4 linked regions of the Homo sapiens genome follow. The protein of the gene in region 4 purifies or fractionates together with the protein of the main gene of each other region. This does not show direct contact. Each region holds a gene or a part of one and is shown on either strand. Other genes may lie near its edges.

Region 1 (3,500 bases), on a different chromosome or scaffold from region 4:
GGCAGCTCGGCGGTCAAGAGAGCGCACTGGGGCCACCATGCCTGGCCTTACCACCAAGGTCCACCCCCAGCTGGCTGTGTGCCCCCAGGCAAGGTCCTTAGCCTTTCTGTGCTCTTGCTTTATCATTTGTAAGTTAGAACTGATGATAAAACTTCTTCCTAGGATCAGTGTGAGGATTAACAAAGTTAGGGCATGGAGGCAGCTGGCGCCATGTCTGCTCAGCACTCTTGACACGTTAGACCATGGTGGTGATGGCGGTTTCCTCAGGATCCTCTCAGGCTTGTCCTGCCATGTACCCAGCCACCCACCCACCCATCCATGCATCCCCCCACCTGTCCACGCATCCCCCCACCTGTCCACGCATCCACCCACCCATCCATCTACCCATCTACGGATTCATCCATCCACCCACCCACACATCCACCTACCCACCACCCACCATCCATGCATCCATCCACCCACCCACCCACCCCCCCATCCAACAATAGGTGGACCCTATCCTGTTTCAGACAAAGTGAAAAAGACATGCACTCAGCCTTTCGAGGGGCTGCCAGCTCTGTGTGGGCCTCAGCTTTCCCATCTGTCCCAGGGTGACGGCCTCATCCTCACAGGCTCATGCTGTCAGCCAGTCAGTCCGTGTGCCGGGGAGTTGGCCCCTAGCAGTGCTGCCTTCTTAATTCACAGATAGACTGGCACTTTGTTCTGTAGTGACTTTGATGGGACAGCTGTGAATAGCGGCCATTTAGCGAATTGCGTTTGAGCTTGTCTGTCAAGGGCTATGGGTGAAAGCCGAACTGGCTGAGTTGAGAGCGTGTCAGGGTGAAGGCTTTCTGATGTGCCGGGAAGACATGTGAAGACCTTCAGCGCTAGTGGGTGTGTGGCCCTGACGGCCTCTCCCTGCACTGGCTTTCATGGTCCCTGGGATGGGCTGCCCTTCATGGGAACCACGATGTGTTCACGCAGGTGTCTTGTCTGTTCTAGCAATGGCGCTTGCTTCCATATCTGGCAGCTGTCTACGCCTTAGACCATTTCTCCAAGTCGCTCTTCCTGGACCTGGTGGAGCTCCAGCGAGGACTTGCATCGGGAGACCGCAGCGCCAGACAGGTGAGGTGGTGTCTGCTTCCTCAGCAGCATCGTTTAAATCTCACACGGTTGGAGCAGCATAGATTCAACCTTCATTTCAAAGCAAAATCAGTCCTTTGATTTGCGAGGACAGAGCATTCCTCCAGTTGTTCCCACCCACTCGGAGCTCTTGGCCTCTGCCGCGATTGAACGGGCTGGGCACGCGTCCACACCCCTGCCTCTCAAGGATGTGCTGACACGACTCCCGGTTCCAGTCTGTGAGTTCAGCTGTTGGTCTCCTTTTGAGAACATGACGGTTTTGCAAAATCCACGTTACCCGCCCCTCAGTGGATTTCATGGTTCTGAGCCTTTTGTAAACAGCTGCACAAAGGTCTGAATCCCACTGACTGGATTTGAGTTGACAGTCAGAGGATTTGTGCCAGAAACGAGCGTGCAAATCCCGAGATCAGCCTCGGCATAAAGAGACATCGGGAACGGATTTCTTTGTAGATGATTATGAACTGATTTTCCATTGTCCCTCCTGCTGCCTCCTGAGCAAGAGTGAAATGTGAATCAAAAGAAATAACCGTGTTTGAAAGCAGAGGAGAAACGCCACAGATTGCTGTTATGTACAACATCAGAAAAAGCCTGTATCTAATTAGCATATCTTGAAATATTATCGGTGTCCACATTCACGGCAGATGATGGCGAAGGGATGACCTGCAGGATTGATGGCAGAGCAAACCCCAGGCCTGGAGGCCTGAGGAGGGAGCGCTTCTGACCACTAAAGGGGTTAAGCCTGTGTTTTCCCTGGAGCGTGAGTCAGTGGAGCTTTTGCCAGCTGACACTTGCATTGTTCTCCTGTGAATAATGTTGTAAAGGGTGACCAGGCTGATTCTTTCTGAAACTCAGTGGTTTAACCCAGGCAGAGGAGGGCCTCAGCTCAGCCCCTTATGTGAAGTTGAAAACACTCATAAAATGGGTCACTGGACTTAGCATGCGTGTGTGTGTGTGTGTGTGTGTGCGTGTGTGTGTGTGTGTGTGTGCGTGTGTGTGTCTTCCTCTTAATTGTTTTTCCTTTTTAATTGTCTTTCTTTTTTAAAATTAAAAATTCTTCTTTTACTCTGAATCAGTCTCTTAAGTTTTTGTTTGTTTGTTTGTTTGTTTGTTTTTGAGACGGAGTCTCGCTCTGTTGCCCAGGCTGGAGTGCAGTGGTGCGATCTTGGCTCACTGCAATTTCTGCCTCCTGGGTTCAAGCAATTCTCTTGCCTCAGCCTCCCAGACTAGCTGGGACTACAGGTGCCCGCCACCACACCTGGCTAATTTTTTTTATTTTTCAGTAGAGACAGGGTGTCACCATGTTGCCCAGGCTGTTCTCAGACTCCTGAGCTCAACTGATCTGCCCGCCTCGGCCTCTCAAAGTGCTGGCATTATAGGCGTGAGCCACTGTGCCTGGCCCAGCCTCTTAAGTTTTCATCATTAGATATCAAGCAGAAGCAAAGGAGTCTTCTTTCTTTTTTTTTTCCCCTTAAAAAAAAGCCTGCAGCACCTGCTATTCCCAGGCGGTCTCCCATCCAAATACTAACCACGCCCGACCCTGCTTAGCTTCACGAGATCAGGCTCATTCAGGGTAGTTTGGCCATGGACAGCAAAGGAGTCTCAATAAAACATGTTAGGCCTGAGGGAGGCACGGTGAGCCCCCACACAGAGCAGACCATCAGTTACCGAGGCGCTTGCAGCCTTCTGGGAATGGACTGGTCCCGGCCCTTCCCTGTCCTGGGAGCGAGCACTGTCTGCGGTGCTGAGTCTGGTTCCCTGGCCTTTCTTCATGGTTTCGCTGCAAACAATTGCAACCTTCCATGGTGTGTCATTCACTTTGACGTTTGTGAACTTTATATAAAGTGGGCCATGACGCACATTCTTCTGCAGTTTGCTTCTGGGACCCGTGTTAGGGCCCTGAGAGCTATTTGCTGTGTAGAGCTGTGTTTTCATTGTTGTGAAATGGTATGAGCGTACCACAGTGTATCCATACTTGGATAAAGACCCTTTTTTATTTCTAATTACAATTAGGTTTCCTCTTCTGTCATTTTCGGGATGTCTTGTATTAGACTAGAGGTGATATGGTGGTTTGATGCTATTGCTGACTTATGACTTTTTGGTGTCTAAAGTCTCTTTTCACCTGTTCTTGTTGGATTCCCTCACCCAAAGGCAGAGCTTGGACGTGAGATCCACGCCCTGGCATCGGCCAGCAAGCCCCTGGCCTCGTGGACCACCCAGCAAGGAATTCAGGAATGCCGGGAGGCGTGTGGAGGACACGGCTATCTGGCCAGTAGGTTTTGGAGAAGCGCATGGTGGTTTCCTGTCCTTAGCCCTGCTGTTTGACTCTAGACCAGGGGTCGGCAGACTGCGGCCTGAGGACCAAATCCAGCCTGCCACCT
Region 2 (3,500 bases), on a different chromosome or scaffold from region 4:
TCTATTTTTTTTTTTTTTTTAGTAGAGACTGGTTTCACCGTGTTAGCCAGAATGGTCTCCATCTCCTGACCTCGTGATCTGCCCGCCTTGGCCTCCCAAAGTGCTGGGATTATAGGCGTGAGCCACCTTGCCCGGCCGGTTTTTTTTGTTTTTTGTTTTGTTTGTTTTTGAGACAGAGTCTCCCCCGTCCCCCAGGCTGGAGTGTAGTGGTGCTGTCACAGCTCACTGCAGCCTCAACCTGCCTTCCTGCCTTAGTCTTTGGAGTAGCTGGGACCACAGGTGTGAGCTGTCACACCTGGCTAAGTTTTAAATTTTCTTGTAGAGACAGATTCTCGCTTTGTTGCCCCAGCTGTTCTCCAACGCCTGGACTCAAGCAATCTTCCTGCCTTGGCCTCCCAAACTGTTGGGATTATAGGTGTGAGCCACTGTGCCTGGTCTCCATGTCTGTTGTGTTTATCACTGTGTGGCTGACATATAGTAGGTGTTTTTTTGTTTGTTTGTTTTTTTGAGACAGAGTCTCACTCTGTCACCCAGGCTGGAGTACAGTGGTGTGATCTTGGCTGACTGCAACCTCCGCCTCCCGGGATCAAGCAATTCTCTGCTTCAGCCTCCCGAGTAGCTGGGATTACAGGCACCCACCACCATGCCCAGCTAATTTTTGTATTTTTAGTAGAGACGTGGTTTCACCATGTTGGCCAGGCTTGTCTTAAACTTCTGACCTCTAGTGATTCGCCTGCCTCGGGCTCCCAAAGTGTTGGGATTACAGGCGTTAGCCACCGTGCCCGCCCCATAGTAGGTATTTAGTAAGCATTTGCTGAGTAAGCAAAGATTACTCACTTCCAAAGACTTCGTCCTCTTTATAAAGGTGGTGGTGGTAGCATTATCTTCCTCTCTTCTTCAGGTACATTACCTGTGCTGAATACACTCACTTTTATGGTGGCAAGAAGCCAGGTAAGGCATGCAGTCTTTCTGTTCCCCGTTGGGGGAGTGGTATTAAGGAACTGTGTCTTCAGGATACAGTGAGCTGTAAAAATAGACAACAAGAACACGGAAACTATGGTAGACGAATGGGCTGAGGACACAGTTCATGAAAGAGAAATATACTCAAGATAGAAGAACCTGCTTCATCTTAGTGGTGATTTTTGTAAAATGTAATTTAAAATATTCCCCGATGCTGGGAGCTAAGTAAAAAATAAATAAGTAAATGAAATACAAAATTACATGTACATTTAAATGTTTTTTCTCTATCAAGTTTATAAGGAATAAAAAGAATGATAATATTTTCAGCTGTCAAAACTATCAAGACTACAATAACAAGAGCACTGTCATAATTTTAATGGAAGTAAAAAGTATGCACTTTTCCCAGTAAGTTCTTTTTTGATGTACCCCAAGTGTTTTGGTTTATCTGTTAAAAGGTTTTTAATCCACAGCAATTGCTGTACTTAAAAATTTGCATGAACTTTTTCATAAGCTGTAACTGAATTGCTAGCAGGTGCACATAGATGAAATACTTTACAGAGTAAGATTTCTGTTTTTTATTTCATTTTTAAACAGATCTCCCACAAACAAATTTTCGTCGTTTACCTTTTGACCACTGCAGGTAAGAGTTTTGCGAGTTTACCTTTCCCTTGTAATTGTTCTCTGATCCTGTCTGATAGTGAATCTGCCCCTTGTGGATGTGGGGTTATGCGTAAAAGTGTGCCTTGAAGATGTGGCCCTTCAGTTCATGTTGGGAGAAGATGCAGAGTCCTCGTCATGATGTTAGGAGCTTGCCTTGGTGTTGGATCCTGCTCTAGACCTTCACCAGGGGTGGCACAAACACTATTGTAGTTGGAGGAGAAGGTTGGTGAGAGAGGGAGGTGGCCAGGCTGCCCAGAGAGGGCTCCCTGGGACAGCATTTCAGGAGGTCACCATGCCAGTCTCAGCCAGCCCACATCCTGACCAGGGTGCGTGGCAACTCACCAGGAATGACTGTCCTTTTTCAGTCTCTCTCTGCAGCCCTTTGTCTACCCAGTCTGCACTCCCGATGGCATCGTCTTTGACTTACTGTGAGTTTTTCCTTGAATTTTGATCTAACAAATGTGAGATTCTCAACACCCATTAAGGAAGGGGACCCTTGGTACCCTTGGGTAGGGCTCTTGGGCACACAGAAGTAACAGCTAGGGCCTTGGGGACATGGCAGCAATGCTGCTGTGACCCTTGGGCAGGCAGCTCTAGTTGTCAGGTACTGCTGTCACTGCCTGGAATGGGGTAGACCACCCCCTACCCCTCCAAGTGCAGGCATGAGCCACTGCACCTGGCCTGAAAATGAATTTTTAGGAAATTTCAGCCTTATTTTAGAAAAAGAAAATTTTACCACAGTCCCACTATCCAAGATAACCACTGTAAATATGCTAATTTTTTGTGAACTTATTTGTAGTAACATGATTGAGATAACACTGTGAACACTGTGAAGTGTTGACAGGTAACACTCTGTGGATCTATTTATTCACTTGGTTGTGATGAGAGCTTTTTTCCCCGTGTGATTCAGAATTCTCTGAAAGTATAGTTTTTCTTTGTTCTTTTCTTTTTTTTTTATTTGAGACAGGGTCTCACTATGTTGCCCAGGCTGGTCTTGAACTCCTGCGCTGAAGCAGTCCTTCCACCTCAGCCTCCTGAGTAGCTGAGATTTCAGGCACACACCATCACCATGCCTGGCTTGAAAGTATAGTTTTTGATGCTAGCTTAGTATTTAATTATACAGATGTATCAACATTTATGACGGAGTGGTGGCTTATGTCTGTAGTCCCAGCACTTTGGGAGGCTGAGGCAGGAGGATCTCTTGAACCCAGGAGTTTGAGACCAGCCTGGGCAACATGGTGAGAACCTGTGTCTACAAAAAAGTGCAAAAATTAGCCAGCCATGGTGGTGTGCACCTGTAGTCCCAGCTACTTGGAAGCTGAGGTGGGAGGATCGCTTGAGCCCAGGGGTTGGAGGCTGCAGTGAGCCATGACTGAAACACTGCACTCCAGCCTGAGTGACAAGGCGAAACCTTGTCTCAAAGAAAAAAAACCCAAACCATTTACTTACTCATTTTCACCTGTAGTTTTTGTTGTTTATACATAACTACAGTAATAACTCTGAACATATTTTGAAACCTATGTATCCACAAATATCCCCCAACTTCCTGAGACAAGATGAGGAGCTCTTCCTCTCCTAAAGTGAAGCAAGACCCCTTCACAGGCCTCTAACCTGGAAGCAGCCCTGCAAGACCACAGTGTTGTTACCAGGTGGCGCCTAAGCACCCTGGTGATGCTTTCTGTTCTGTCTTCCCTTCAGGAACATTGTTCCATGGCTTAAGAAGTACGGGACCAACCCCAGCAATGGAGAGGTAGGTGGCTGTGCAGGAGTTTCAGTGATGCTAGTGAATGCTATCCTCTCACTTCTCCTTTTGTTCTGGTGGTTTTCATGAACACAGGAACATGGGAGAGAACCGTTCATGGGGCCCAGTGAGGAGGGAC
Region 3 (3,515 bases), on a different chromosome or scaffold from region 4:
TGTGTTACTAAAAGGCAAAATAAAAGTAATGACTTTATTCTAAGGTTCCTCTTAGTTTTTACATACTCGGTATTCTATCTCTAACACAAAGTAGCCGTTTTAGGTTGCTTTGCATATGAAATGAAGGTACTAATGAATACACAGAAATTAAGTACCTTAGGTATCTGGTCTAATTGCCCTCCCCACCTTATAGTGAAAACAGGCCCAGAAAAACTGACCAGCCCAAGGATGAGGCCAGTTCCTTTGTCTCCCAAAGTCTAAGTGAAAATGGGAGATTCATTTGTGCAATCTATTAGATTACATTTAAACCTATTTTGGGACTGATAAAATTGACAGATGCTCTTTCTCTCCAAACCCCTAATACTTATCACAAAATGATATGACAGAATCAACTAAACAAGGTCATGGGTTATGTCTGACGATAGTTCTCTAGGGAAAATGGAAAGAAATAAAATAACACTTGGCTAAAATGATATCATTTTTAAATGATTACTAACCAGTTGTTACAAAAATCACCTCTTGGTTTTATTTCTTTTTATATTAGTTTGATACGTGAATGTTAGTCCAACTTAATTTTTGAAGGAGAAACAAAATGAAAAATGTTTTTTAAAAAACAAACAGTGGTATCTCTTGTCATGAGTTGGATGCCTGTGACTGACATCAGGTATTGCCAAGTAATAAACATTTTGCCATTCAACTCTAAATCCCTTATTAGCATTAGTTTTAAAGGAAATGTTACAGCTTTTATATTATTTGATTTGGTATTTAATAACAGTTATAAGTACAATGGTAGACACTGAAAAAGAAAACCCTTAATAGAAAAGAAAAAGACAATTTAAAATTAGATTTTGTTGAAGGGTGTTATAAGTGCAACTTTATCCATATGCATTCCTTTTAAGGCATTTTCATTGTCCAAATATCTCAACATGTACATCAAGGTTTATATTATAAAATGGGCTCCTTTTGTATTCATTCAAGACTTAAAGAAAAAATACATCTCAGGACTAAGTGTAGCTGAAAAGAAAAACACAAAAATTCACCACTCACAAAAAGTAACTTAAAATACAAAAGTCATTTAGTATACATTATTACTCCCCATTGTAATTCCAGATTTGGTACAGTATCTTTTTCATTTCCTGACATAAACCATTAAGACAGCACAGGCTGTAGTACTTCATTGTGAGGTGGCTACAACTCTATAATATGCACAGTGATTTTAAAATAGGCTTTTTGCATGCCTTGCATGAAAGGTGCTACATACAAACCTGTTTTGTGAACTCTTTGGTAACCACCAATTTAAAAATTTGGATGAAAGCATTTCCACATGGACAGATCTGAAGCACATTATTGGAGCTCTGAGCCAAAGCTATTACCCTGTATATTGATTCTTCAGTTTCCTTGAGGGGTTAGGTGTTGATTTAGAATACAGCCAGATAATTTAAAGCATGTCAGGCCCCGGTTAGGAAAATGAAAATGGCTCCGATTCGTTTCCAGTTGGCTTTATTATTGTTTGGCAGAAGTTGTTTAGGGGAGAAGAGTGGCTTCCTACAAAGTTTGCTTCTCAAGGTATACTGGAGAAAGTAAAATATTCATGTGGTTACTACTGTCTAGTCGTTTCTTGAAATGGTATGAAAAAAGTGTGATGAATATAATTGAGATTATTCATATTTTTGTAGTCTCAATGTGTTCCCTTGGTTGTCTCTTTAATTGTCCCTTCTCAGGGTCAGCCTACTCAGATTCAGTACTTTACACGTTGTTTTCAGCATTTTCTGCTTGAAGCACTAATGCACTTAACCCAGCATGTTCTGTATTTTAGGATATTAGTGTTCTGGAGAGGTCAAGCTGTAATGTCATTCGCCCTCATTGGGCTACATCACCACCCATTAAATTTCAGCTTTTCAGTAATTGTTCTGGGATGTGTTCTAGTTGTGCAAATTAGATGCTAGCTAATATAAATCTAAGTTACCCACTAACTGTATTTAGCCATAACATAATTTCTATGTTTACTTTTATCCACCTAAAAATGAATGTACATTTTTTGACATGCAATTGTCTCTAGACTGCTCTGATACCTATTACCAATGTGCTACTTGAATCCAGGGAGTTATGAGAGAGAGAGATGTTTCAAAGTCTACGGAAAAGGTTTTAGATATTTCTGTTGTGCATTATTTTTGTATGTTAGTAAGAATCCTTTGTATTTCCATTTACATAGCACCTTTCATCCAAGATTTTCAAAATGATTTAACGTTAACAGCATTTGGTGGTAAAACCTAAGTTACCGGTGGCATTGAAGTACGTAAGTAAGCTCAAGTTCTCTAAGTTCCATTTCAATTTAAACATGCTCTCTTTTTTATTGATGGTCTTTTGGAAATTAGACTGTGAACACAACATTGCTACTGGCCTACGAAAGAGAGAGAGAAAGAGGGAGAGAGAAAGAGAGAGAGAGAGAGAGAGAGAGAGAGACTTTTCTTATGGTTACTGGGTTAGTGATGAAACCCACAACTCATAAACCACACACTATGGAATATGGAATTATTCCAAAAAGTTCTTCAGAGCTGGTAATGAAAGCCTAAGAAGTACACTGTTAAAATTTTAAAAAGTCAGTATGTTTCTCATTTCAGACCTTGAAGATTACTCTGATATTGATGTTAAATAATGAATTTGCATTAATGAGTATCAATGCATTTTTTGATTTCATAAGAAAATAAAACTGTGATATAAAATTGGAACTACTAAAAAAATTGATGTTTCCCTGGGTTAACTAAATCTATTTTTTTGTGCTTCTTCCAAATGTTTAAAGGTAACAAATGCATACAAATATTTCAAAAGTACCAATAACAGTTATCAACTTTAATGTAATATCATAAAGGAGAAAAAAATCATTAATAAATGATAGCCTTAATTATAAATGAGTTTCTGGCAAAATGCAGATCATAGTAACTTATTTACATTATTTTTGCCATAAGAAAACTTCTTAAGCAACAGTCAGCTCTCAAGTTAAAAAAATGCACACGCATACATAACCCAATACCAAAGAAAAGAAATGAGTTAAAGCACAACAGCTTTATCTTGGGAATGCCATTTGCTGAAAAACCATCTTACTAAAAAAAAGTTTCAGAAAAACACTCTTTACCATGGGTTAACTTATGAATGCTTAGTGTTGCTTAATGGGAAATATGGAAAGATTAATATCACTATAAATTTTTTATAACTCCTATTTCATTATGGATTTTTCAGATTTATCTTATAAACTGAATTTCTTTTGCATCAAAATAATTGGCTTTAAGAAAAAAAAAGTATCAACACATGCAGTCTGCTAACCAAATAAGGCTCTGACATGCCAAAACAATTTTCTCTGTATCTTGCTATATAGTACATTCCACAAAATACTACAGCATTTAATTTAGGTTTACACAACTAAATATAAATGGCTAGATTTTGGCTAACACTTAGCAGAAGCATTAAGCAAACATGGATAAATTCATAAAACAAATGATGAAAAAAGCAGATTGTTC
Region 4 (3,482 bases):
CTTTGGAGACGTTTGAAAATGTCCATAATGACAAGTTTAATAATAATCAAGTGAAAAAAGAAAGTTTTGATCTAGGGTGTGTCCCATGAAATGACTTTAGGAATAAGCCCTAAAATCAATATTCTCCAGGCATGAATGCAGATGGGGGGAGATCAACTTCAAGCTCCCTACAGACGAAGGGATCCCACGAGGTTCAGGTAGTTGAATTTTCAAATCGGAGCCAATAAAAAGTAACACTTTAGCATAAACGAGAATGCGCCAACATAGGAAAGCTCAGCTCACATTTCATTTTGAAAACCCAATACATGTATCGCACAGAGGTGCAAAGTCAGAAAAAAGCTGTATCCGTGGCTCAAGGAGAAATAAGTCCGGAGATCGACAAAGACAATGGCAGTCAGGCTGAGGCAGCGAACACAGACAAAGGTCCACAGCCGACTCCAGCTGAATCCATTCCTACGAACCAGGCTGCTTCCACGGCGGGTGGGCCCCAGGCCTCGGAAAAGGCACAGGGACTGTGAACTAGAAACCCAAGCAGCAATGCCAGTGGTGTCCACCATAATCGCACAACATAATAAGCAGTAATCAAAGAAGGGTGTGAAATGTAACAGAGAAGACAGAGGAGTGATGTAATCGCGGAGCCACGGGCTGGAGGCTGTAGAGCCCAGGATGTTTCTGTCGGAAATCGGAGGACAAAGAGCTGAGGATCAAGGCTCAGCAGGTGCCGTTCCCACGGTGGCGGTGGGTGTCGTGTGCCAGCCCTGCCTCGCAGCCCCAGCCTCAAGCACTTCCCTGTACCCTGCAACGGGGAACTAGAGTAAACTCAGCCATGAACATCATCTGGTGAGAAGACCCTGGAACCCTGCATGGGTCACTCAGCCCTTCAAAAACACTGATCAAAGTTATGGCTGCCTCTTCAAAATCCCAGCAGATGAACCAAGGCTGTACATAGTAAACGTGGAGAATGAAAGACCTTCCTGAAACCATTCAACTGGTTCCCCTTCCCAAAATGCATTACTCAGCCAATCTTAAGAACCTAATCTGGATATCTCCAAAAATATCAACTGAGGGGGAAAATTTTTTGAGGAGTCCTCACCCCTTGGGACTCTGCTGTGACACTCTGGCCAGCCCGCAAGGCGGCAGTCCTCCGGCCTGCTGGGTCCTCCACCTGCCCCTTCCACTCCTGCCAGGCGGCTTCTCAGAGCCAACCCTCATTGCAGGGACTCCCTGACCTGCTTCTCCCCACCCAACCTGTGGCCCTGGCTCTCTGGCGGCCACTCCATGCTGACTGCTGCACTTCCTGCAGCCACCCTCGTGCTCCACCAGCCCAGCTCTCTGCTCCTCCCTTGGCCACGTCCCTCTGCAGGGAGTGCGATTACTTCCCCACTGTCACAACTGGCCACCTAGTCCCATGAGAATGCGCATGGAGCTGAGTGGTCTGGAGCCCACCCTTTCCAGGCTGACATGGAATGAGAGCGCCTGCAGGTACCTCCCGGTTTTGGGGGTGGGCCAGGCCTCACAGCATGGCTCTGCTGCACTTCCTCCAACAACTGCAGCTCACCACCACCAGCTGCCACTGTGCTGTGATACATGGTCAAAGAAGGGTCAAAGTGCCATCCAAACTGCCACGCTTGTTTAAAAACAAGGTTTAGGGAGGCCAAGGCAGGAGGATCACTTTAGGCCAGGAGTCTGAGACCAGCCTGGCCTACATGGTAAAACCTCGTCTCTACTAAAAATAACAAAAATAAGCCGGGCGTGGTGGCGCACGCCTGTAATCCCAGCTACTGGGGAGGCTGAGGCAGAAGAATTGCTTGAACCTGGGAAGCAGAGGTTGCAGTGAGCTGAGGTCGTGCCACTGTGCTCCAGGCTGGGCAATAGAGCGAGACTTTGCCTCAAAAAAAAAAAAAAGAAGAAAAAAAGAAATACTGTGATAATTACCAAAATGTAAATCAGAGAAATAAATTCAGCACATGCTGTTGGAAAAATGGCACCAACGGACTTGCTTGATGTGGGGTTGTAGCAAACCTAGCATTTGTTAACAATGTAAACAGTACAGCAACCCTCAAGTGCAGTAAACAAACAGCAGAAAGATGAGGTGAGCTGTGTCCATCAGGCCCCAGCCACCAGAAGGGAGCACGAGAAAGGAAATGTTCTGAAAGACGGCTGTCAGGATGATCTCATCTGGGACGGAAAGGATTAAGCCGAGAATGCTGAGGATGCAGAGTGCTGAGTTATCTCTGCATTGGCAAGATGTGTAGTCCCTCACAGATGCTGATCTGTAACAGAGTATGAGAGATGGGAAAATGCCCCCCAAGATATCCTTGTTCCAATTCCCGGAACCCACGAATACATTACCATACATGGCAGAAGGGATTCTGTGGTTAAATGAAGGATCTTGAGCTGGGCGATTATCTTGGTCAGCCCAATGTAATCAGATCCTCGTAAAAGGGAGGCAGGAGGGTCAGAAAAAGGAGGAGACAAAATGACAGAAGCAGAGGGGAGAGAGGGGCTGAATGAGAGATTCACAGAGAGGGTGAGAGAGAGGGAGAGACAGAAAGGGAGAGAGGGAGAAATATTGGAAGATATCATGCCGCTGTCTTTGAAGAAGAGGAAGGGGCCACTAGCCAAGAAATGCAGGCAGCCTCTCTAGGCCATTTCTTGGAGAAGCAAAAGGAAGTTAGTGCAGATTTGCTCGCATTCATGGCCATGATATTCAGCTCACCAAAAAAATGAAGCTGTATGACCTCAGGATGCCAAACATCCTGGAGATGCCCCTCTGTCTGCCTCTTGCTGCCTTTTCTGTTTGGACTGATGCTGACAATGACTGCTGTGGGTGCCCTCACAGTGACGGCAGACCACATCCTTCTCACCTTGTGAATGTCTGAGTGACCTCTGAGCTAGAGAGAACTTTTGCTCATAGCTCTTCACTTATCTATTAGATTTGAAAACCCTTCTCTGGATTCTTGAACCTCTGAGGCTCACCCCAGTTCATCTCAGCTTCACCCTGGGTCGGTGGCTGCTTGGGAGCGTAGGGGAGCATCAAAAGTATGACAGTCAATAACAGCTACAACCAAAGGTCTTGAGAACAGGATCAGCACCTGCAGAATGGGGGTCAGCCAGCAAAGCTGGCGGGGACTCATGCTCTCCCTAGAAGGTACAAGGCACTGGCTTGATGTCAATTCCTTATTGCTTAGGCTCACTTCTTTCACTCACTACCTGTACACTTAATTATCCAGGTTGGTGTTTGGGATTATGTATGCTTGGAGGCAGGGCTTATGCACCTAATGAACGCAAGAAATTAAAAACAGACTAAGCCGATATCTGACGGTCTTCATGAAGCATAAACAACTCCACAGTGATCTTAAAGATGTGACTGCTCCATGGCTGGGCGCGGTGGCTCATGCCTATAATCCCAGCACTCTGGGAGGCCGAGGCAGGAGGATCGCTTGAGGCCAGGAGATCGAGATCAGCCTAGGAAATATAAT

What was found. Proteins that work in one complex are often made in the same cells at the same time.
Region 1: the proteins of FKBP6 (region 4) and ACOX3 purify together in Homo sapiens (affinity purification with mass spectrometry; 3 studies listed by BioGRID and IntAct, with this or other methods). This does not show direct contact.
Region 2: the proteins of FKBP6 (region 4) and PPIL2 purify together in Homo sapiens (affinity purification with mass spectrometry; 3 studies listed by BioGRID and IntAct, with this or other methods). This does not show direct contact.
Region 3: the proteins of FKBP6 (region 4) and CCDC88A purify together in Homo sapiens (affinity purification with mass spectrometry; 3 studies listed by BioGRID and IntAct, with this or other methods). This does not show direct contact.

Annotation. Positions count from the first base shown.
Region 1 is NC_000004.12:8,392,224-8,395,723, reverse strand, and holds part of ACOX3 (peroxisomal acyl-coenzyme A oxidase 3), read left to right. Parts: intron 1-981; coding exon 982-1,104; intron 1,105-3,270; coding exon 3,271-3,391; intron 3,392-3,500. UniProt on the Homo sapiens protein: Oxidizes the CoA-esters of 2-methyl-branched fatty acids.
Region 2 is NC_000022.11:21,669,012-21,672,511, forward strand, and holds part of PPIL2 (RING-type E3 ubiquitin-protein ligase PPIL2), read left to right. Parts: intron 1-901; coding exon 902-951; intron 952-1,287; exon of another isoform or gene 1,288-1,365; intron 1,366-1,554; coding exon 1,555-1,600; intron 1,601-1,985; coding exon 1,986-2,048; intron 2,049-3,318; coding exon 3,319-3,370; intron 3,371-3,500. UniProt on the Homo sapiens protein: Has a ubiquitin-protein ligase activity acting as an E3 ubiquitin protein ligase or as an ubiquitin-ubiquitin ligase promoting elongation of ubiquitin chains on substrates.
Region 3 is NC_000002.12:55,287,342-55,290,856, forward strand, and holds the end of CCDC88A (girdin), read right to left. Parts: 3' UTR 501-3,515; downstream 1-500. UniProt on the Homo sapiens protein: Bifunctional modulator of guanine nucleotide-binding proteins (G proteins). Acts as a non-receptor guanine nucleotide exchange factor which binds to and activates guanine nucleotide-binding protein G(i) alpha subunits.
Region 4 is NC_000007.14:73,352,161-73,355,642, reverse strand, and holds part of FKBP6 (inactive peptidyl-prolyl cis-trans isomerase FKBP6), read right to left. Parts: intron 1-3,482. UniProt on the Homo sapiens protein: Has an essential role in spermatogenesis. It is required to repress transposable elements and prevent their mobilization, which is essential for the germline integrity.